Homo sapiens: one gene and its partners. The protein of the gene in region 2 interacts with the protein of the main gene of each other region in a pairwise test. Each region holds a gene or a part of one and is shown on either strand. Other genes may lie near its edges.

Evidence for each region. Proteins that work in one complex are often made in the same cells at the same time.
Region 1: the proteins of LIAT1 (region 2) and ATP1A3 interact in binary tests that used the Homo sapiens proteins (3 or more experiments, as listed by UniProt).
Region 3: the proteins of LIAT1 (region 2) and PECAM1 interact in binary tests that used the Homo sapiens proteins (3 or more experiments, as listed by UniProt).

Annotation. Positions count from the first base shown.
Region 1 is NC_000019.10:41,976,917-41,984,664, forward strand, and holds part of ATP1A3 (sodium/potassium-transporting ATPase subunit alpha-3), read right to left. Parts: intron 5,191-7,748; coding exon 4,992-5,190; intron 4,916-4,991; coding exon 4,806-4,915; intron 4,721-4,805; coding exon 4,586-4,720; intron 1,883-4,585; coding exon 1,690-1,882; intron 1,411-1,689; coding exon 1,235-1,410; intron 1,157-1,234; coding exon 1,020-1,156; intron 1-1,019. UniProt on the Homo sapiens protein: This is the catalytic component of the active enzyme, which catalyzes the hydrolysis of ATP coupled with the exchange of sodium and potassium ions across the plasma membrane.
Region 2 is NC_000017.11:405,250-413,833, reverse strand, and holds the start of LIAT1 (protein LIAT1), read right to left. Parts: upstream 3,510-8,584; 5' UTR 3,492-3,509; coding exon 3,188-3,491; intron 706-3,187; exon of another isoform or gene 687-705; coding exon 1-686. UniProt on the Homo sapiens protein: Participates in nucleolar liquid-liquid phase separation (LLPS) through its N-terminal intrinsically disordered region (IDR). May be involved in ATE1-mediated N-terminal arginylation.
Region 3 is NC_000017.11:64,318,601-64,325,294, forward strand, and holds the end of PECAM1 (platelet endothelial cell adhesion molecule precursor), read right to left. Parts: intron 5,246-6,694; coding exon 5,216-5,245; 3' UTR 815-5,215; downstream 1-814. UniProt on the Homo sapiens protein: Cell adhesion molecule which is required for leukocyte transendothelial migration (TEM) under most inflammatory conditions.

The DNA of each region.
Region 1 (7,748 bases), on a different chromosome or scaffold from region 2:
GTCTCAGCCTCCCTAGTAGATAGGATTACAGGTGCCCACCACCACGCCTGGCTAATTTTTTTTTAATTTTTAGTGCAGATGGGGTTTTGCCATGTTGGCCAGGCTGCTCTCGAACTCCTGACCTCAAGTGATCCACCCACCTCGGCCTCCCAAAATGCTGGGATTACAGGCGTGAGCCACTGCGCCCAGCCAAGACACAGTGGATTCAGAGGAACGGAGATAAATGGACAAGCTGAAGGAAGGCAGAGTCAGAGATAGGTATGAGGATGGGAAAGTTGAAGAAGTCAGAAAAACAGAACAGAAAAGAGAGACAATGACAGACAGACAGGAAAAAAGAGAGACAGACACAGAAGTACTGGATTCTACTGAATCCTCTGAGATAGGAATTATTAGTAGCCCATTTTAGAGATGGGCAAACTGAAGTTCATGGATGCTAAAGGACTTGCCCAATGTCACACAGCTTGTGAGCGGTATAAGCTGGAATGCAGGCCGGGCGCAGTGGCTCACGCCTGTAATCCCAGCACTTTGGGAGGCCAAGGCAGGTGGACCACCTGAGGTCAGGAGTTCGAGACCAGCCTGGCCAACATAGTGAAACCCCCGTCTCTACTAAAAATACAAAAAAAAAAAAAAAAAATTAGCGGGGCATGGTGGAGGGCCCCTGTAATCCCAGCTACTCAAGAGGCTGAGGCAGATAATTGCTTGAACCCGGGAGGCGGAGGCTGCAGTGAGCTGAGGTTGCCCCACTGCACTCCAGCCTGGGCGACAGAGCAAGACTCCATCTCAAAAACATAAATAAATAAATAAAATAAAATAAAGGCTGGGATGCAAACCTATGCCTGGCTACCTCTGTGGCTGCAATGTCCCCACACCGGAGGGAGGGCCAGACCCAGGGCCTGGTCCATGGAGGAGTCCCAGAAAGAATGGGACAGGCAGTGCAGAGGGAGGTTGGGGGGAAGCGGTCCCCCTGTGTCAACACCCTAGAGGGATGTCCAGGGCCCTGGCTGGGATGGGTGGCTCACCGGGGGTTAACCTGGCTGACGGGAATGTTGAGCCGGGCGGCGATGTCCTCCACAGTCTCGTTGCCCTCAGAGATGATGCCCACACCCTTGGCAATGGCCTTGGCCGTGATGGGGTGATCGCCGGTGACCATGATGACCTGCAGGCATTGTTTTTTAGGGATGGCCTCTCCCGCCCCACGCCTGGCTTTGCCTCCCCCAGCCACCCCAAGCCACACCTTGATGCCTGCGCTGCGACACTTGCCCACCGCGTCAGGGACGGCTGCCCGGGGTGGGTCGATCATGGACATGAGGCCCACAAAGCAGAGGTTGTCCGTGGTGAAGTTCACGTCATCACAGTCGAAGGCAAAGCCCTTGGGGAACTGCTCCTCGGGCAGGTAATAATGGCAGAAACCTAGTGGCAGGGAAGGGTTGGGGTGTGAGGGTCCCAGCCTCGGAACCTCCGCCCCATGCCCCTAGATGTCTGCATCGCCCGCATTCCATCTCCCCATCAGCAAGACGGCCAGTCAGCATTCATTTCCTAGGATACCTTCCCCTCTCATCCATCCATTCATTCATTCATTCATTCATTTACAGTATATTCTGGGAGGCCCTGGGCTGAGACAGGCTTTGGGCAGCATCACAACCCTCCTTGCCCTCCAGGGACCCCAGAGCCCGCCCGGCAGCCTCGCACCAAGCACGCGCTCGCCCAGGCCACCGAGCTCAAGGTAGGCATTCTGGAAGGCCTCCTTCATTTCCTCGTCCAGAGGCTGCTCCTTGCCCTGTAGCAGGATGGTGGAGCAGCGGTCCAGGATGCGCTCGGGGGCACCCTTCATCACCAGCAGGTATCGGTTGTCGTTGGGGTCCTCGGTCTCATGGATGGAGAGCTGGGGACCGATCAGAGGGTGGCGTGCCTGAGCCACGCAGACACCAGGAAGCTCCCTGCCCCATCCTGTCCCCTGTCCAGAGCCACGGGTGCCAGGATAGGCCCACACCAGGGCTCCCCCACACTCTCTCACAGAGACCTCTGCTCATTCCTGTCCGCTCTGTCTATGTCATGGATATATATTTCTTTTTCTTTTTCTTTTTTTCTTTTTTCTTTTTTTTTTGAGACAGAGTCTCGCTCTGTTGCCCAGGCTGGAGTGCAGTGGCACGATCTCAGCTCACTGCAACCTCCACCTCCTGGGTTCAAGCAATTCTCCTGCCTCAGCCTCCGGAGTAGCTTGGGATTACAGGCACCACCACCACACCCAGCTAACTTTTGTATTTTTAGTAGAGACGGGATTTTGCCATGTTGGCCAGGCTGGTCTTGAACTCCTGGCCTCAAGTGATCTGCCCTCATCGGCCTCTCAAAGTGCTGGGATAACAGGCATAAGCCACCACGTCTGTGCTCCCCTCCTCCCACCCTGTTTTTTTTTTTTAAGACAGGGTCTCACTCTGTCACCCAGGCTGGAGAACAGTGGCGAGATCACAGCTCACTGCAGCCTTGATCTCCCAGGCTCATGCGATCCTCCCGCTTCGGTCTCCCACGTAGCTGGGACCACAGGTCCACACCACCATGCCTGGCTAATTTTTTATAGAGACATGCTCTCCCTATGTTGCCCACGCTGGTCTCCATCTCCTGAGTTCAAGCGATCCTCCTGCCTCGGTCTCCCAAAGTGCTGGGATTACAGGCGTGAGCCACCACACCCAGCTGTATGCTTCCATTTTTATGAAATGTCCAGAATAGGCAAAACCATACGGACAGAAAGTAGGTTAGTGGTTGCTTAGGGCTGGGAGTGTCGGGGAGGAGGGGGCGGGTGACAGCTGAGAGATGTGGGGTTTCTTTTTGGAGGTGATGAAAATGCTCTAAAATTGACTATGTGGATGGCTGCCTATATCTGCGAATATACTAAAACTATTAAATTATACACTTAGAGGGACGAGCTATGGTATGTTAATTATATCTTAATAAAGTTATTTTAAAAGCTCTGAGTCAACTCCTGTCTCTCTTTGGCTGAGAGCCCCCTGGAGGCTTGTGTGCTCCTCAGAGTCACAGCCAAGTCCTCTCCATGCCCGTGGGGCCTGACAGGATCTGGCCAGCACCCACCACCCCCACCACGCTCCCTGGCTCCCAGCCCCTCTGCACTGGCTGGCTGGCTGGTGTTCAGATGCGTCAGCACACTCCCGCCTCTGGGCCTTTGCACAGGCTGTGCCTGCTACCGGAGCGCTCTTCCCCCAGACACCTGCAGGGTTCCCTCCCTCAGCACCACAACCACTACGATTACCTCCTCATGCCTTTGTTATTGTCTGTCTTCTAGAACCAGAGCGTAAGTCTCAGAGAGGGGTGACTTCACCATGTCACTCACTACTGTGTGTACACCCAGCACCCAAAACAGGGCCTAACATGTGGTGGCTGGTCAAAAAATGTATACTGAATGGGCCGGGCATGATGGCTTATGCCTGTAATCCCAGCACTTTGGGAGGCCGAGGTGGGTGGATCACTTGAGGTCAGGAGTTCAAGACCAGCCTGGCCAACATGATGAAACCCCATCAATACTAAAAATACAAAAACTAGCTGGGTGTGGTGGTGCACGCCTCTAATTCCAGCTACTCGGGAGGCTGAGATATGAGAATCACTTGAACCCAGAGACAGAGGTTGCAGTGAGCCAAGATCACACCACTGCCTTTTAGCCTGGGCGACAGAGCAAGACTCCATCTCAAAAAAAAGTTTACTGAGGCCGGGCGCGGTGGCTCATGCCTGTAATCCCAGCACTTTGGGAGGCTGAGGCGGGCAGATCACGAGGTCAGGAGATCGAGACCATCCTGGCTAACACGGTGAAACCCCGTCTCTACTAAAAATACAAAAAATTAGCTGGGCATGGTGGCGGGCGCCTGTAGTCCCAGCTATTCTGGAGGCTGAGGCAGGAGAATGGTGTGAACCCGGGAGGTGGAGCTTGCAGTGAGCTGAGATCGCGCCACTGCACTCCAGCCTGGGTGACAGAGCGAAACTCTGTCTCAAAAAAAAAAAAAGTTTGCTGAATAATTTAAAGTTGCTGCTCTGCCCCAAGAGGTCTCCTGCTTGTTCCCACTCTCTGCTGTAGGAAAACTTTTTTTTTTTTTTTGAGTCAGGGTCTTGCTCTGTCACCCAGGCTGGAGTACAGTGCGTGATGTAGGCTCTCTGCAGCCCCAACCTCCCCGGCTCAGGCAATCCTCCTGCCTCAGACTCCCAAATCGCTGAGACCACAGGCACATACCACCACACCTGGCTAATTAAAAAAAAAATTTCGTACAGATGGGGTTTTGCCATCTTGCCCAGGCTCGTCTCGAACTCCTGGCCTCAAGTGATCCCCCCACCTCAGCCTCCCAAAGTTCTGGTGTTAAAGGTGTGAGCCACCGCGCCTGGCCTGCAGGAAGATCTTTACTCCTCAGCGTCTCACTCCAACAGAGATCCGGCTCCCACTCTCAAGCTCTCCCTGTTCCTCTCCCCACCAGGCGGGTATTATCATTCCCATTTTACAGACGGGAAAATCAAGGCTCTATGACACCTCTTTACAGGCGTCATAAGGAACCTGAGGTCCAGGCTGGCTCTCCCGGAAAGCCCAGAGTACCTGGTATTTGTTGGTGGAATTGAAGGGAATCTCAGCCACTTTCTTGTTGCGTTCACGCATCAGCTTCACGGAGCCAGAGGACAGCTCGATGCACTTGAGCAGGGCAGACTCAGACGCATCCCCAGCCACATCCCTCTGCAAGGAGAAAGGGTTGTCAGAACAGGGACAGCTGAGGGGAGGACACAGGCAGGGCCGAGGTGAGGCCAGTAGCTGAACCCACCTTGAGCACAGGGATGTTGTCCTGACCACCCTTGAAGACAGCGCGATTGCAGAGCCCAGCGATGTGAGACAGGGCCACCCAGGTGTGCGAACTCTTGTCAAATGAGGTCCCTGGGGGAGGCATGTGTGAGGGCCAGGGACTCCTGGAGCCAGGCCCCCATGGTCCTCACCCGGGGCCTGCGCTCACCTGACTGGTCCTCAGTGGTGTCAGCCTCGTGGATCTGGTTGTCAAACCACATGTGGGCGACTGTCATGCGGTTCTGAGTGAGGGTCCCTGTCTTATCTGAGCAGATGGTGGACGTGGAGCCCAGGGTTTCTACAGCCTCCAGGTTCTTCACCAGGCAGTTCTTCCGGGCCATGCGCTTGGCGGTCAGCGTCAGACACACCTGGAGGACGAGCAAGGGCAGGCAAGTTACAGGGACAAGCCCGGCAGCAGGGTTGGATGAGCGACACGAGGGCCACAGCCCAGCTGCCCAGCCCCCAGAGAATCCTGAGGGCCTGGAAAAGAATGAGGCAGCACCCAGCAATGCCACCCCCAATTCAGACCAATAGAAACAGGGCAGAGACACCCAAAGACAGGGACTAGAATGCTCATAGCAGCCACATGCATAATAGTGCAAAACAGCCAGGTGCAGTGGCTCACGCCTGTAATCCCAGCACTTTGGGAGGCCGAGGTAGGCGCATCACTTGAGATCAGGAGTTCGAGACCAGCCTGGCTAACATGGTGAAACCCCATCCCTACTAAAAATACAGAAATTAGCAGGGCATGATGGTACACTCCTGTCATCCCAGCTACTTGGGAAGCTGAGGCACGAGAACCCCTTGAACCCAGGAGGTGGAGGTTGCAGTGATCCGAAATCGTGACACTGCACTCCAGCCTGGGCAACAGAGTGAGACTCCAACTCAAAAAAAAAAAAAATTGTCCAAAACTGCAAACTACTCAAATGTCCACTAACAGCAGAAAAGATAAATTGTGGACAATGGAATACTAACATTGATAAAAACAAATACATTACTGCTGCCTGCACCTGCATGGGTGAACGTCAAAAACATGTTCAGCCAAAAAGAGCCAGAAATGAGTTCATACTGAATTATTCCGTTAATAGGAAGTTTGAACACAGGCAAAGTTAATCTATGCTGTTAGCAGCCAGATCAGGGGTTACCCTTGGGTTGGGGGGCAGGGGCTAAATAAGGTCTTGAGGGGGCTTCAGGGAGACGCAGTCTCGTTGCAGCTGACGTGATTCTGTTCAGTTTGCCCCAAATCATCAGACTATGTGCTCACAATATGCTTAATCCTTTGCGTATAAAAATCCATTTGACATAGGGTAGCATTCAACATTGCTAATATGGAAAACAGTAAACTTTTTTTTTTTTTGAGACACAGTCTTGCTCTGTCGTCCAGGCTGGAGTGCAGTGGCTCGATCTCAGCTCACTGCAACCTCCACCTCCCAGGTTCAAGCAATTCTTGTGCCTCAGCCTCCCAAGTAGCTGGGATTACAGGCGCCCACCATCACGCCTGGCTAATTTTTGTATTTTTAGTAGAGATGGGGTTTTGCCATGTTGGCCAGGCTGGTCTTGAACTCCTGACCTCAAGTGATCCACCCACCTCGGATTCCCAAAGTGCTGGGATTACAGGCGTGAGCCACCCTGCCCGGCCCTAATATGGAAAACTTCACATAAAACATTAAGTCAAAGAATGAAAGAGGAGAATGGTATTTCTAAGATAGTCCCTGCCATGCACCTTGAAGACAGCATTTAGTCAATATGCTCACAGCTGTCAGGCGGAACCTCACAGAGAATGGACTTCTGGGGTGAAGCTGGCAGCAAAGCAGCCAGAGAAAAAATTTTTAAAAATAATAATAATAATTATTATTATTATAATAATTATTATTATTATTATTTTCTTGAGATGGAGTCTCCCTCTGTCACACAGGCTAGAGTGCAGTGGTTCAATCATGGCCCACTACAGCCTCAACCTCCCGGGTCAGCCTCCCAAATAGCTGGAACTACAGACATGTACCACCACGCCTGGCTAATTTAAAAAAATTTTTTTTTTTTTTTTTTTTTTTTTGAGACAGAATCTCGCTTTTGTCGCCCAGGCTGGAGTGAGGTGGCACGATCTCGGCTCACTGCAAGCTCTGCCTCCTAGGCTCAAGCTATTCTCCTGTCTCAGCCTCCTGAGTAGCTGGGATTCCAGGCACCCATCACCACGCCTGGCTAATTTTTATACTTTTAGTAGAGATGGGGTTTTGCCATGTTGGCCAGTCTGGTCTCGAACTCCTGACCTCAGGTGATCCACCCGCCTCGGCCTCCCAAAGTCTTGGGACTACAGGCATGAGCCACTGCGCCCAGCCTTCACATTTTTTGGTAGAGATGGGTTCTTACTATGTTGTCCAGGCTTGTCTCAAACTCCTGACCTCAAGCAGTCCTCCTGCCTCAGCCTCCCAAACTGTTGGGATTAAAGGCGTGAGCCACTGCGCCAGGCTTATTATTTTATTTTATTTATTTATTTATTTATTTTTGAGATGGAGTTTCACTCTTGTCACCCAGGCTGGAGTGCAATGGCGTGATCTTGGCTCACTGCAACCTCCGCCTCCCAGGTTCAAGCGATTCTCCTGCCTCAGCCTCCTGAGTAGCTGGGATTACAGGCATGTGCCACCACGCCCCACTAATTTTGTATTTTCAGTAGAGACAGGGTTTCACCATGTTGGCCAGGCTAGTCTTGAACTCCTGACCTCAGCTGATCTGCCCGCCTTGGCCCCCCAAAGTGCTGGGATTACAGCGTGAGCCAGTGCACCCAGCCTCATTATTTTATTTTTTAACTTGATGTACTCTTCAACTTTTCATCATGAGCGTGCACTTCTTAATTTTGCAATAGGATTGTTGGCTCTTTACGGCTTGCCAGTGTTTCTCAAGATTTTTGTTTGTTTCTTTCTTTGATTGT
Region 2 (8,584 bases):
CTTGGGGTCGGGGTGGAAGCCCTTGAGGGCCTCGGGGTCAGTGTGGAAACCCTTGAGGGCCTTGGGGTCGGGGTGGAAGCCCTTGAGGGCCTTGGGGTCGGGGTGGAAGCCCTTGAGGGCCTCGGGGTCAATGTGGAAACCCTTGAGGGCCTCGGGGTCAGTGTGGAAACCCTTGAGGGCCTCAGGGTCGGGGTGGAAGCCCTTGAGGGCCTCGGGGTCGGGGTGGAAGCCCTTGAGAGCCTCGGGGTCGGGGTGGATGCCCTTGAGGGCCTCGGGGTCGGGGTGGAAGCCCTTGAGGGCCTCGGGGTCGGGGTGGAAGCCCTTGAGGGCGTCGGGGTCGGGGTGGAAGCCCTTGAGGGCCTCGGGGTCGGGGTGGAAGCCCTTGAGGGCCAAGCACCGGTACCGTTTTCTCCGATTCAGTTTATAGATGCGAATCCTTTCCTTCTCTGCCTCCGGGTCAGCAAGAATTCCATCCCAACGCAGACTTTCGTTGATCCGATTCGCAAGGTTCTCTATTTCGGCAAAGTCGGGGAGGCTGACGGTGGAGGAGTCAGAAGGGAGGTGCTTCTTTTCCACTTTGCTCTGTCTGTGCTCTGGTTTCGGGCCACGCTCTTTGCAAGGACTTAAGATGTCATGAAAGGAGGAAGAAAGCGGCTGGCTCTTCAGGCTCTGACTCTGATGTTTATCTGCTGAGTAGATGAGCAGGTTAGTGTTTGTGGCAATGTCTGACCTTGGCCTGCTGGGGATGGTGCCAAAATCACCCAAGATGGAAGAGGAGGATGGGGGCCCCTCCGTACCCAGGGCTCAGGCTGCCAAGCCCACCAGCCTCGTGCCCACCTGCCTGTGTGATTTTGCTGAAATCATTTCAGGGCAGGAGGAACCATTCATTGAGCACACAGTCTGAGCCAGGCCGTCTGGGTAAAGGCGATCGGCCCTATTCTTCGGGTGAGGAAACCGAAGCTCCAAAAGGTTCAGGAACTTGCCAATGTCATGAGCGAGTGGCAGAGCTGGGACCTGAGTGCAGGCTGGGCCCCCAATGCCCCATTCTTTCCACTGGGCCGTGCTGCCCTCATCCATCCTCGCCATGTGCTCACCACGGCCATTCCCAGTTCTGGGAGTCTGTGACTCTACCCTAGTCTAGACACTTTATGATGGAAGGAACGGAAAACAACAGAAAAGCTTCCTAAATTTGACTGAAAGCAGTATTATGCCAAGCCAGAAATACTTCTGCTGTATGGCTTGTACTGATTTTTTTTTTTAACATCAATAGCACTTCAGAATTATTTAACATGCACATAAAATGCTACAAATTGTGGTTCTTTCATCAGCTCGTCCTTTTATTTTAGGGGAGAGAGAAAGAAATCATCTTTTGACATTTCCCTCCCTTGCTACGCCCTGGAAACTATCTGGTGCCCCCTGCTGATGGTATGAGGCACATGTCACTGTAATTTCTACAGTGAAAAGCTACGCCAAAAGGACAATGAACTGCCAAATTTCTTTTTGCAGATACACACAGGGCTTTTTTTTTTTTTGAGACTGAGTCTCACTCTGCCACCCAGGCTGGAGCACAGTGGCACAATCTTGGCTCACTGCAACCTCCGCCTCTCAGGTTCAAGCAATTCTAGGTGCCTGCCACCATGCCCAGCTAATTTTTGTATTTTCAGTAGAGACGGGGTTTCACCATGTTGGCCAGGCTGGTCTTGAATTCCCAAAGTGCTGGGATTACAGGCGTGAGCCATGTGCCCAGCCACACAGGGCTTCTTGACCTGAACTGCAGAATTTTCTTGCCTTTGTATTACGCCTGAGAAGTACTTATCATCTTCCCATTGCTCCCTTCCCACACTGCACGGTCCATATGGGCGAGGCTGCCACTCTGCCTCCTGCTTGCCTTGGTGCCAGCTCTGCCACAGAGGGCCAGGCCCCAGAACTGGAGCTTAGAGCCCTCTCCCAGACAGCCAAAGCCACTGAGGTGGACCACACGGGCGACAGTGGCCTCACAGCACTCACGGGCACCTGCATTCTCTGTCACTGCTGTGCTCTCTCTCCTCAAAGTGGGTGCTCAGTCCCCTTGTCAAGAAATGTAGGGGTTCTACAAGAAGAGCTTGGTGAGATGTAGGGACTGGGGTTTATGGCAGGTAGGGTATGTGTGTTTGTGAAGGTGTCCCTGAGAGAGACTGCAATTCCTGCCTGCATATGACTACACACGCGAATGGATAACGTATTAACAGTCTGTGTGTGTAGACTAGGAATGTGTGTGCATGAGGGGGATCTGTGCTTTAGTTTTCTTGTTTGTTTTTTTGAGAGACAGGGTCTTGCTTGTTGCCCAGGCTGGAGTGCAATGGTGCGATCATAGCTCACTGCAGCCTGGAAGTCCTGGGTTCAAGTGATCCTCCCACCTCGGCCTCCCAAAGTGCTCGGATTACAGGTGTGAGCCACTGCGTCCCGCCCTTTAGTTTCACTGTTGGTGTTACATTGATAGAAGGTGGGGGGAGTGGTTGAGGGTGTCCCCCGCCCTTTAGTTTCACTGTGGGTGTTACACTGATATGAAGCGGGGAGTGGTTGAGGGTGTCAGGGATTATAGGAGGATGTCACAGTGACTGGTGTCATGGGGTTTGTGCAGTCCAAGGCTGCCCCTTGGTGGGTGCGAGGGGGAGCCCATGCAGCGAGGACCTTTAATACACACGTCTGTGGGTGTGGGTGTCTACCGCGCATCCACAGGCAGGCAGCCTTAACGCAAGAGGGTGGGAGGAGGGGAGGCAGGAGTCTGCCCTTCTCTGTGCATGAGAGTGAGGGCCTTTCATGTGGCATCAATGTGTTTGGGGTGGGGAAAGTGTCTTGTGAGGAGGGCCTCTGTGGGGAAGGCGCAGACGTTTAAGACTGCCAGTTTTGGCTGAGGGATTAGGAAGTTGAGAGGGTGTCTTTGTGTGGGGCTGGAAGGCTCTTAGGAATGGTGGATATCTGTAGGGGTCTCTGTGTGGGGCTAAGGGACCGCAGAGTTGGTGGATGGTCTCCACGGGTGGGGCTGGGGCATCAACGTGCTGCTGACGGGCATGTGTGGGGAGCAGGAGGACCTCGGTCCGGGACCACTGAGCTTCTGTTTCCGGTCTGAAGGGTAAATGGGGGGTGGGTCCCCAAAGAGTCTCCAGGGAACCGGAGCTGACGCAGCCGGGCTAGCTGCTCCTCTTACCGTCCCCCTTGCCAGACCCCTTGGTCTTCTTCTTCCTTTTTTTCTTCTTCACCTTCCGTTTGGCCAGCTCGGAGGCGCCGCCTGTGATGGGGGGCAGTCTAGACCCCCGCGGGCCCGCGGCGCCGCCCTCCCGCTCCTCCTCCTCGCCGTCGTTGTCCTTGTACCCCATTGTCCCCGCCCCACCGCGGCGGTCCAGCCGCCCGCTGGGCTGCAACCCAACCCGCCCCGGGGGCGCCCGAGGCCCGATGCCGACTAATCGGCGACTCTCAGCGCGGACCGCCAGGCCAGGGCCACGCGTCTCCATGGCGACCACCCCTGCTGCGCCTGCGCAGTCAGGACGCTTCCGCCCGGTGCCCCACGGACCGCGGTGTGCGCATGCGTGCTTCCGTCTTTTGGCGACCTTGGCACACAGCGGTGTGCGCATGTGTGCTTCTGTCGGGGATCTCGAGAACAGAGCGTTGTGCGCATGCGTACATCTGTCGGAGTGCTAGGTACGCAGCGGTGCGCGCATGCGTGCTTCCATCTGTTGGCGATACCGGCACAGCGATGTGCGCATGCGTGCTTCTGTCTGCGGAGACCTCCGCGCATAGAAGTGTGCGCATGCGTGCGTCTGTCGGAAACCTCCGCACACAGAGGTGTGCGCATGCGTGCTTCTGTCGGGGACCGCGGCGCACGGTGGTTCGCCCATGCTTGCTTTTGTCTGTTGGAATCTGGACAGTTGACCGCAGGAAGGGGAGGGTGGGCAGAGAGATTTTAAATCCCTGGGCTGACACTCATCTCGTCCAGTCCCGTGCCTCGATCCTCCTGCCTTGGCCTCCCATCCCCACGCCTGGCTAAGAGTTTTGATTTTTGGTTTCAGGCTGGTCTCGAACTCCTGGGCTCCATCGATCTTCCCGCCTCGGCCTCCTAGATCGCTGGGATCACAGGCATGAGCCTCCGTGCTCGGCCTCCTGTACCTTTTTAAATGCTGTGTATTCTCCCCTCAATTTTTATTGCCTGAGTTTCAGCCTCGTACATCTACCCTGGACTCTCAAAGCCAATGTGTCCAAAACAAACTTACTTCTTCATGGTTTTCCACTTTAGTGAACAAAACCGCTGGACTGGCTGGAAACCTGGTGGGCTTCCGTGTCCCCTACCCTCTCCCTTGTCCCTTACCCAGGCTGGGGCCGACTGCCGTGTCTGGCACTGGGACTTCTGGGTCCTCTCCTGAATGGTCTCTGCTTTCAAACCTTCCCCACGAACTCTTTTTCCGCACAGCTGCTAGAACAAACTTTTAAAAACAACCAAACCGTTCACTCTCTTGCTAAAAGTCTCCAGTGATGAAAAACAAAACATAAAAAGCCAAAAAGTCCTCCATTGCTTCCTCATCACAATTTACATCAAGATCTAAACTCTTGTGGGGCTCTGTGCAGGGCTGACACCCGTAGTCCCAACACTTTGGGAGGTCAAGGTGGGTGGATCGCTTGAGCCCATTCTGGGCAACGTAGTGAGACCCCATCTCTACAAAAAATTAACCAGCTGCGCTGAGGGGCACTTGTGGAGGAACTTGAGCCTGCAGTGAGCCGAGATCGCACCACTGCTGTCCAGCCTGGGTAACAAAGCAAGACTTTCTCTCTCTTTTTTTTTTTTTGGGAGACAGAGCCTTCCTCTGTTGCCCAGGCTGGAATGCAGTGGCGTGAACGTGACTCACTGCAACCTCTGCCTCTCAGGTTCAAGTGATTCTTCTGCCTCAGCCTCCCTAGTAGCTAGGACTACAGGTGCGTGCCACCACGCCTGGCTGATTTTTTATTTTTTATTTTTTGTATTTTTAGTAGAGACGGGGTGTCACCATATTGGCCAGGCTGGTCTCGAACACCTGACCTTGTGATCCGCCTACCTCGGCCTCCCAAAGTGCTGGGACTACAGGCTTGAGCCACCACGCCCGGCCTCTGTGTCTTAAAAAAAAAAATAACAAAGTGTGGCTTACAAGGCCTGGTATGATGCATCACCTGCTTTTCTTTCTAGGTTTACCCTCCACAGATTGTATTATCTGAAAATGGCTGCAGAGGCTGGGCATGGTGGCTCACGCCTGTAATCCCAGCACTTTGGGAGGCCGAGGTGGGTGGATCACTTGAGGTCAGGAGTTTGAGACCAGCCTGGCCAACATGGAGAAACCCCGTCTCTACTAAAAATACAAAAATTAGCTGGGCATGGTGGTGGGTGCATGTAATCCCAGCTATTTGAGAGGCTGAGGCAGGAGAATCACTTGAACCCAGGAGGTAGAGGTTGCAGTGAGCTGAAATTGCATCACTGCACTCCAGCCTGGGTGACAGGGCAAGGCTCCATCTCAAAATAAAATAAAATGATAAAATAAAATAAAACTGCTGTGCTCCAGCCTGGGTGACAGAGCAAGACTCCATCTCAAAATAAAATAAAATGATAAAATAAAACTGGCTGCAGTAATATCTCTTGTCCCACATACTCTTCAAGAATCTTGCCATTCCCATGGCAAGACGCAGAGTCTCATTCCGCTCTCCTTCAATTTAAGGGGTTTGTTGACTCGCTTGTAACCAATAGTATGTGGCAGAAGTGCCTCTGTGTGACTTCTCAGGCTAGGTCCTAAAGGGAATGCAGCATCCATCCATCTTCTTAGCCCATGACGTGCTTGCTGTAGAGTCCTGAGCCTCCCATTGAGAAGTCTGAGGACCCCAAGGCTGTCACACCTTGATAAATCCCCACCTAGTCCACGTGGAGAGCCTCTAAGATGTATGGAGAGAAAGATGCCTCAGCTCCTCCAGCCCCCACTTTTCCCATCCAGCTATCGTCCTGCAGCAGCAGCAGGAGAGACCCCAGGCCAGCCCCAAGCAGACAAGCCTTTCCTGAATTCCTGACCCAAAGAAGCTGTGAGAGAAAATACAATGGTTGTAGTTATTTAAGTTACGAAGGTTTGGAGTGATGTGTTATGCAACAGTAGATAACCAAATGTGTCTTTTTAAAAAGATATGGAATGGTATTTTATCTTTTATTTAATTTCAACTTTTATTTTAGATTCGGGGGGTACATGTGCAAGTTTGTTACATGAGTACACTGAGTGATGGTACATGACTCATGAGTACAATGTACATGAGTACATTGAGGTTTGGGGTATGGGTGATCCCGTCACCCAGGTGGTGAGTACAACACCCAACAGTAGTTTCTCAGTCCACATCTTCCAGCCCCTCCTCCCTCTAGTAGTCCCCATTACCCATTGAAAAATCAGCCTTTGATTTTAGCCACTCTAGTGGGTAAGAAGTTGTATTTCTCTGTGGTTTTGAATTGAATTCCCTTGGTGATTAACGAAGTCAAGAACTCTTGAAAGTGCTTTCTGGTCATTTGTGTATATATATATATATATGTATATATATATATATATTTTTTTTTTTTGAGATGGAGTCTTGCTGTGTGGTCTGGGCTTCCATGCAGTGGCACAATCTCCACTCGATGCAGCCTCTGCCTTCTGGGTTCAAGCAATTCTCCTCCCTCAGCCTCCTGAGTAGTTGGGATTACAGGCATGCACCACCACACCTGGCTAATTTTTGTATTTTTAGTAGAGACGGGGTTTCACCATATTGGCCAGGCTGCTCTCAAATTCCTGACCTCAGGTGATCCACCCGCCTCGGCCTCCCAAAGTGCTGAGTTTACAGGTGTGAGCCACTGCGCCCGGCCTGTCATTTGTATATCTTTAAGTGTCTTTTGAAGTCTTTTGGCCATTCTGTAATGTGGTTGTTTATTGTTGATTTGTTGTTTGTTGTTGATGTCTTTGCACAACTTGAATATAAGTGTTTTGTCAGCTTTATGACTGCAAAGATTTTTTTTCCAGGTCTGTAACTTATCCATTTTCTGAATGTGGTGTCTTTGGATAAGCAGAAATTTGAAATTCTGATAAATAATTTTTTTCAATTTTCAATTCATTTGATCAGTTTTTTCTTTTTGTATTGTGTCCAAGGATGCTTTGCCTGCCCCATATTGCAAAGACAGTGTGCTATGCTATCTTCTAGAAGCTTTATAGTTCTGGTTTTAGGTTAGGTTCATGATCTACTTCAAATTTATTATTATTTTTTGAGATGGAGTTTCGCTCTTGTCGCCCAGGCTGGAGTGCAGTGGCGTGATCTCAGCTCACTGCAACCTCTGCCTCCCGGATTTAAGCAATTCTCCTGCCTCAGCCCCCAAGTAGCTGGGATTACAGGCATGCACAAACATGCCAGGCTAATTTTGTATTTTTAGTAGAGGCAGGGTTTTACCACGTTGGCCAGGCTGGGCTTGAACTCCTGACCTCAAGTGATCCGCCCGCCTCGGCCTCCCAGAGTGCTGGGATTATAGGTGTGAGCCACCGCACCTGGCCTACCTCAAATTGATTTTGTGAATAAAGTCACATATAGGAGTCACATTTATTTTTTCCCAAATCGATTTCCAGTTTTTCCAGGAACTTCCATTGAAAAGACATTCCTTTTCCCATTGACTTGACTTGGTACTTTTCATTACGATTTTTAAAAATTTTTTTGGGATGGAGTTTCACTCTGTGGCCCAGGCTGGAGTGCAGTGGTACGATCTCGGCTCACTGCAACCTCCACTTCCCAGGTTCAAGTGGTTCTTCTGCCTCAGCCTCCTGAGTAGCTGGCACTACAGGTGCGTGCCACCATACCTGGCTAATTTTTTTTTTTTTTGTATTTTTAGTAGAGATGGGGCTTCACCATTTTGGCCAGGCTGGTCTCAAACTCCTGACCTCAAGTGATCCACCTGCCTCAGCCTCCCAAAGTGCTGGGATTACAGGCGTGAGTCACCACAGCTGGTCATTTCTGATTTTCTTTTCTTTTCTTTTCTTTTTTTGAGACAGGGTCTCACTGTTTTGCCCAAGCGGGTCTCAAATCTCTGGGCTCAAGTGATCCTCCTACCTTGGCCTCCCAAAGCATTGGGATTACAGGCATGAGCCACCATACCCAGCCTGACTTGGTATTTTTGTAGAAAATGAGTTAACTATGTGTTTGTCAATCTATTTCTGGACTCTGTTTTGTTCTGTTGTTCTGTCTATCCTTTGATCAATACCACATCATCTTGACTTATCATCTTGTATCTTTATGGTAAATCTTTTTTTTAAAAAAATACAAATAAAAAATAGAGATGGATTATCAGTATGTTCCCCAGGCTGGTCTCAAACTCCTGAGCTCACGTTGTCCTCCCGCCTTTGCCTTCCAAAATGCTGGGGTTACAGGCGTGAGCCGCCGTGCCCGGCCCATGGTAAATCTTGATGTCACGTAGTGTAAGTCTTCCAACTGTGTTATTTTTGAAGATTGTTTGGACGATTCTAGAGCCGTTGCTTTTCCATATACATTTTCAAATCTTCTGGTTTACTTCTTAAAATCCCCTTTGAGATTTTGATGG
Region 3 (6,694 bases), about 64 Mb from region 2:
ACACCTATAATACCAGAATTTGGGAGGCTGAGGCAGGAGTTCTATCACTTGAGCCCAGGAGTTTGTGACCAGCCTGGGCAACATAGTAACACCCTCATCTCTACAAAAAAATTAAAAATTAGCTGGGTGTGGTCGTGGGCACCTGTGGTCCCAGCTTTGGGAAGCTGAGACAGGAGGATTGCTTGAGCCCGGGAGGTCAAGGCTGCAGTGAGCCATGTTCACACCAGTGCACTCCAGCCTGCGTGACAGAGCAAGACTCTTTATCTCAAAACAAACAAAGACATGGATAAAAGCTATGGATTCTCTCCCATAGAAAACTGCACACCCTCATAACCTTTTGCACCTACTCTTTTTTTTTTTTGAGACAGAGTTTCGCTCTTGTTGCCCAGGCTGGAGTGCAATGGCTCGATCTTGGCTCACCACAACCTCTGCCTCCCAGGTTCAAGCAATTCTCCTGCCTCAGCCTCCCGAGTAGCTGAGATTACAGGCATGCACCACTACGCCCGGCTGATTTTGTATTTTTAGTAGAGATGGGGTTTCCCCATATTGAGGCTGGTCTCGAACTCCTGACCTCAGCTGATCCACCCACCTCAGCCTCTCAAAGTGCTGGGGTTACAGGCGTGAGCCACCGCGCCCGGCTGCACCTACTCTTAGAGAATTCTCAGGCCCCACGCCTTACCCCAACTTCTGTTACCAGTGGTGAATCCAATGGGTCTGCAGCAAACTTGATGCTTGCCTTCTCAAAGACAGAACTCAGCTGAGGGGCAGAGGTGGTTTTAAGTGGTTTTAAGGCACAGGGAGAGACCAAGGCAAGTTTTAGAGCAGGAGTGAGAGTTTATTAAAAAGTTTTAGAGCAGGAACAAAAGGAAGTACACTACACTTGGGTCAGGCAGGCAACTTGAGAGATCTAAGTGCCCTGCCTGACCCTTAACTTGGGGTTTTATGTATTTGGCATAGTTCTGGGATTTACGTCTCATCTCCCCTGATTCTTCCCTTGCAGCAGGCTGTCCGCGTATGTGGTGACCTGCCAGCACTTGGAAGGGGTCGCATGCACAGTGTGATTACTGAAGTTGCGCGCATGCTCACTTGAGGCATTTTTCCCCTTACCAGTCGTGCGTTCCCAGAGGAAGGTAGGTCATATACTGGTTAAATTCCGCCATTTTGCCTCTTGGTGCGCATGCTCCAGGCTGCTTGCCCAGCTCCTGAGATCTTATCGGGAAGCGGCTGATCACCAGATCAGGGTGTTTTGTATCTATTGAGAGACTGTCCTTGCTTGGAGCTGGCTGCAACCAATTATTATTTTACAGAGACAGTTTAACAACCACCTGACCATCACCTGATGGTAGCCTGACATTCCTGTGGGGGCCCTCACCTGTCCTGCTCATGTTTGCCTAGCTCCCTACTCTAACATTTCCACTCTGTGGACCCCAGGTTGAGATCTTCTGCAGGGAAGACTGTCCTCAAATAGCCTGCTGGGGAGACATCTCCTTCCCGTTTACCTTTCCATTTGCCCTTGCGGTGTTAGGCAAAGGCTGAAGCTGGCCTCTGTGGCAGAGGGTTTCTTCCCAACACGCCAATGACGCTGGTGGAGAGTCTTAAAAACAGCTGTGCTGGGGAGAGTTCTTGGTGTGTACCTTTCAGAGACCTCCTCCTTAAGACTCTCAAAGACTGAGTCAGGCCAGTGGGAGCCTGGCAGCAATTCTTAGGGGACAGTGACAGCTTTTTGAGGAGGACTAATTGGCTTCTAGGGCTGGAGGCCACTTGGGTCTGACAGACTGCCCTGCTGCCATCCCTCCAGGGCACCCCCCACTCCCTTGCCTCAGGGCCTTCCTGCACTTCTTCCTTTTGTCCTCAATGTTCTTCACCCCACCTTTTCCACTGGTACCCTCTGCCTATGGTCAAGGCTTTGGTGAGACCCACTTTCCTCTTAGACCTTCCTGGATCCCCCAAAGTCTGTGTTGGAAGCCCCTCCCATGTGCCCTTGTTTGAGCTTTTAATTTTCCACCATGACGCTTGTCACACTGCTTTGTAATTGGCTCTCTGTTAGTCTGCATCTCTACTGGGTTGTACCTTCCAGGAGGACAGCTGCCATGTGACTCTTGTAATCTTCCCACCGCCAACACCCAGCACAGCGTCAGGAACACAGAGCATGATGAGCACAAGCTTGTTGAGCAAACAGACAAATAACTGGATGCTTCTGTGCAGAGTTTCTCAACCTGGCCATTATTGGCATTTGGGACTTGATCATGCTTGGTCGTGGGAGACGGTTCTGTGCCTGTAGGATGTTTAGGAGCATGCTTGGTTTCTACCCACCAGATGCCGGGAGCACACCCACCCAGCTGTGACAACCAAAAATGTCTCCAGACACCATTCCAAAACCAGCGGGAGACAAAATCGCCCGACAGTCGTTGCTTTAGTGAGTGAATGTTGACCTAAGCGTCACTTCGCCTGTCTTGAGTCTAGGTCGGGGAGTGGGTTCAGTTAGCCAATCAGAGAACGCTGATGGGGCGACCAGTATATGCTCATGAAATGGGTGGCTGACCTCTTGGGGTCAGAAGAGGGAAAAGTTTTACTGTGTGTTGGCTAAGGACCATTTTAAGTCCTTCAGTGACCGATTACCACATGAGAACACAAGAGGGCGCTCTAACTAATGAGTTCCGCGGCCGAGAAAACTCCTGGAGTGGGTGCTCCTGGGATGCTTCAGGTTTAGACACCGGGGTTACGGCAGCTGCCGAGGAAGGCTAAAGCCAGCGTCCTGGATTCAGACAGACCTTTTAGCCATTAAATCCACTAAGAAAGATCCCTGCGCATGAAGTTTCCTCCTCGGAAATATAGGCAGAAGGGAAAGTAATTTTAAACTCATGTGTGCTCCACAGGCCGGGGGCGGTGGCTCATGCCTGCAATCCCAGCACTTTGCGAGGCCAAGGAGGGAGGATCACTTGAGCCCAGAAGTTCGAGACCAGCCTGGGCACCATGGTGAAACCTCATCTCTGCAAAAAAAAAATTAAAAATTAGCCAGCTATGGCGGCTCACGCCTCTGGTCCCAGCTACCCAGGAAGCTGAGATGGGAGGATCGCTTGAGCCCAGGGGTTCGAGGCTGCGGTGAGCCATTGTTGTGCCACTGCACTCCAGCCTGGGCAACAGAGCAAGCCCCTGTCTCAACAAAACAAAACAAAACAAAAAATTCAGTCGTGCTGCATAAGTAAGGCACCAGGAGTAGGAATAGGGTCTTTGCAGCTCCCGTGGCAATTGCCCTTCTCTGGTGGTGGCAAGGGACTAAGGAACTCCCTGGACACAGGGGATCTGGCTGTCCCCAGATCATCAACAGAGACATGAAGGTCGTTAGAGGTCGTCTGATCCTTTGACCTCAATCTGAGCCCACCACTCAGAAAACCTGGAAATTGTATGACATTTTCGTGATACAACTCGGTGTGTGTGTGTTGGGGAAAGGAACCAACAGCTTTCATCATATTGTCAAAAGAGTCTAGGCTGGGCATGGTGGCTCACGCCTGCAATCCCAACCCAAAGGCCTGTGGAGCACACATGAGGACAAGGCGGGCAGATCACCAAAGGTCAGGCATTCGAGATCAGCCTGGCCAACGTGGTGAAACCCCATCTCTACTAAAAATACAAAAATTAGCCAGGCGTGGTGACATGTGCCTGTAATCCCAGCTACTCGGGAGGCTGAGACAGGAGAACTGCTTGAACCCAGGAGGCGGAGGTTGCAGTGAGCAGAGGTTGCGCCGCTGCAGTCCAGCCCGGGCAACAAGAGCGAATCTCCGTCTCAAAACAACAAAACAAAAACATAGACCTGCTCGGTTCTCTCTGTGACTTCAGAGGCCCAAGGAGTCCTCAGCACTATAGATGCATGTGGCCCCTCAGAAGACAACATTTCACAGATCTGCAAAGAGCAAAGGTCAAATTTATTTAATACAACATCCACGAGGGTCCCTGCAGCTGTGTCACTGAGGCAAACAGGAAAAGTGATTTTGGCTAGGCGTGGTTCTCATCTGTGAAATTCCACAGCGCAATGACAGCAGCCTCTCTCCCACCCACTCAAGACACTGTCAGGAATGTCTTAAGACCTCAGGAGACCACTTCTTTAGCAAGCAATTTTGTTTTTTGTTTTTTTTGAGATGGATTCTCACTCTGTCACTCAGGCTGGAGTGCAGTGGCGCGATCTCCGCTCACTACAACCTCCGTTTCCTGGGTTCAAGCGATAATCTCACCTCAGCCTCTTGAGTAGCTGATACTACAGGCATGCGCCACCACGCCCGGCTAATTCTTGTATTTTTAGTAGAGACAGGGTTTCATCAGGCTGGTCTCAAACTCCTGACCTCAGGTGATCCGCCCACCTCAGCCTCCTGAAGTGCTGGGATTACAGGCGTGAGCCACCTTGCCTGCCCTGGCAAGGAATACATTTTTAAAAATTAGTAAGAAACATACACATTTCAAGTTTTCAATTAAGAATAATATTTGCTGATGGCACCATCTTCCTGTCTTTCAGCCTTCAGCATGGTAGAGGAAAAGAGAAAGAGTGTAGACAAAAACAGTTGAAGAACATCTGTGCTTGTTCCACCTTCATTTTCTGTTTTGTGCGTTGCCTGAATGAACGGTGTCTTCAGGTTGGTATTTCACAGGCGGTGCTCCCAAGTAGTCTGGTTTTCCCATTTGTGGAGGGCGAGGTCATAGAGGGGACAGGGGGAGGCTGTCTGGTCAGCACTGTGTATTTCCAAAGAACAAGGACTAGCCAAAACTACAAGCCTTTGAAGGACCAAAGGAAAAGAGAAAAAACCAGCCTCTAACCAGGCCATGCGCTAGAAATGATTGAGTATAAAAAAGAAAATTGGTTTCTGTGTATGAGGGTGCATGGAAAAGGTCTTTATCTCTGCACAAAACAAAATATTCAAGTTTCAGAATATCCCAATGGCCTTGCCCTGGATCTCCTCTTGTGCTCTTCCAATTTCCAAGGATGTTCCAACTTGGTGGAAGGAGGGTATGTGGGAAATTCAACAGCCCCTCTGTATCTCTTTCTACCCAACATTAACTTAGCAGGATGGATTTAAGAACCGGCAGCTTAGCCTGAGGAATTGCTGTGTTCTGTGGGAGCAGGGCAGGTTCATAAATAAGTGCACAGAGGTCTTGAAATACAGGGATTATCTGTTCTTCTCGGAACATGGATGTCCTTCCAGGGATGTGCATCTGGCCTTGCTGTCTAAGTTCCATCAAGGGAGCCTTCCGTTCTCTGTAGCGACAAGAAACAAGGCAAGTTATGATCACACCTCTCAAGATTGAAGATTGCCCTGGTGGAGAGAAATGCAAAATGACAGCACTTCTCAAAGAAAATGCAAAGCAGGGCTGTCACACACTGGTCCCCCACCCTGCAGGGTTCTCTCTGTGACTTCAGAGGCCCAAGGAGTCCTCAGCACTACAGATACACGTGGCCCCTCAGAAGACAACATTTCACAGATCTGCAAAGAATAAAGGTCAAATTTACTTAATACAACACCCACCAGGGTTCCTGCAGCTGTGTCACTGAGGCAAACAGGGAAAGTAATTTTGGTTAGGTGTGGTTCTCACCTCTGAAATTCCACAGCACAATGACTGCAGCCTCTCTCCCACCCACTCAAGACATTGTCAGGAACGTCTTAAGACCTCAGGAGACCACTTCTTTAGCAAGCAATTTTTTTTAGATGGATTCTCACTCTGTCACTCAGGCTGGAGTGCAGTGGCGCGGTCTCTGCTCACTACACCCTCCCTCTCCTGGCTCCTGCCCGTATGTATTTCTCCTTCTCTCCATGCCTGCTCTGTAGGGACCATAGCCTCTGTCCCTGCATACATGTTGGACATCAATCACATCAGTCCACCAAGTAACTTCATCAAGCACCCATGTACGCCCAGCACAGCGTCCCAAGGGTGCCCCACTTACCCACAGAAGAAGAAAGGCAACTTTGTAAGAGATCTGACTTCTAGCTCCAGTTCTGTCTCTAGCTAACGTGAGATGTACCCGTTTGAGGCCTGTTTTTTAATTTTGAAAATGAAGGACTGAACTTAGATGGTCCAACTGAAATGTTTTAAAATGATATGATTCTACCTTAAAAAGAGAATGAAATTCTGATATATTTTCAACACAGGAAAACCTTGAAAACGTTATGCTAAATGAAATAAGGCAGACATGAAAGGACAAATATATGATTCCACTTATGTGATGTACCTCAAATAGTCAAATTCATAGAGACAGAAAGTAGACAGTGGTTGCTAGGGGTTGCTGGAGGGGCAATGGGGAGTTAGTGTTTAATGGGTACAGTGTTTCAGTGGCTGCTCTGCCTATGGAGTAGCCATTCTTTTGTTTCTTTACTTCTCTAATAAACTTGCTTTCACTTAAAAAGAAAAAGCTCTGGAGATGGATAGTGGTGGTGGTTGCACAGCAATGTGAACGGACCTAATGCAACTGAATTATACACTTTAAAATGGTTAAGTATACACTGGAAAATGGTGAATTTGCCGGGCGGGCGCAGTGGCTCACGCCTGTAATCCCAACACTTTGGGAGGCCGAGGCGGGTGGATCATGAGGTCAGGAGTTCAAGACCAGCCTGGCCAACATAGTGAAACCTTGTCTCTACTGAAAAATACAAAAATTAGCCGGGCGTGGTGGCGTGTGCCTGTAGTCCCAGCCACTCGGGAGGCTGAGGCA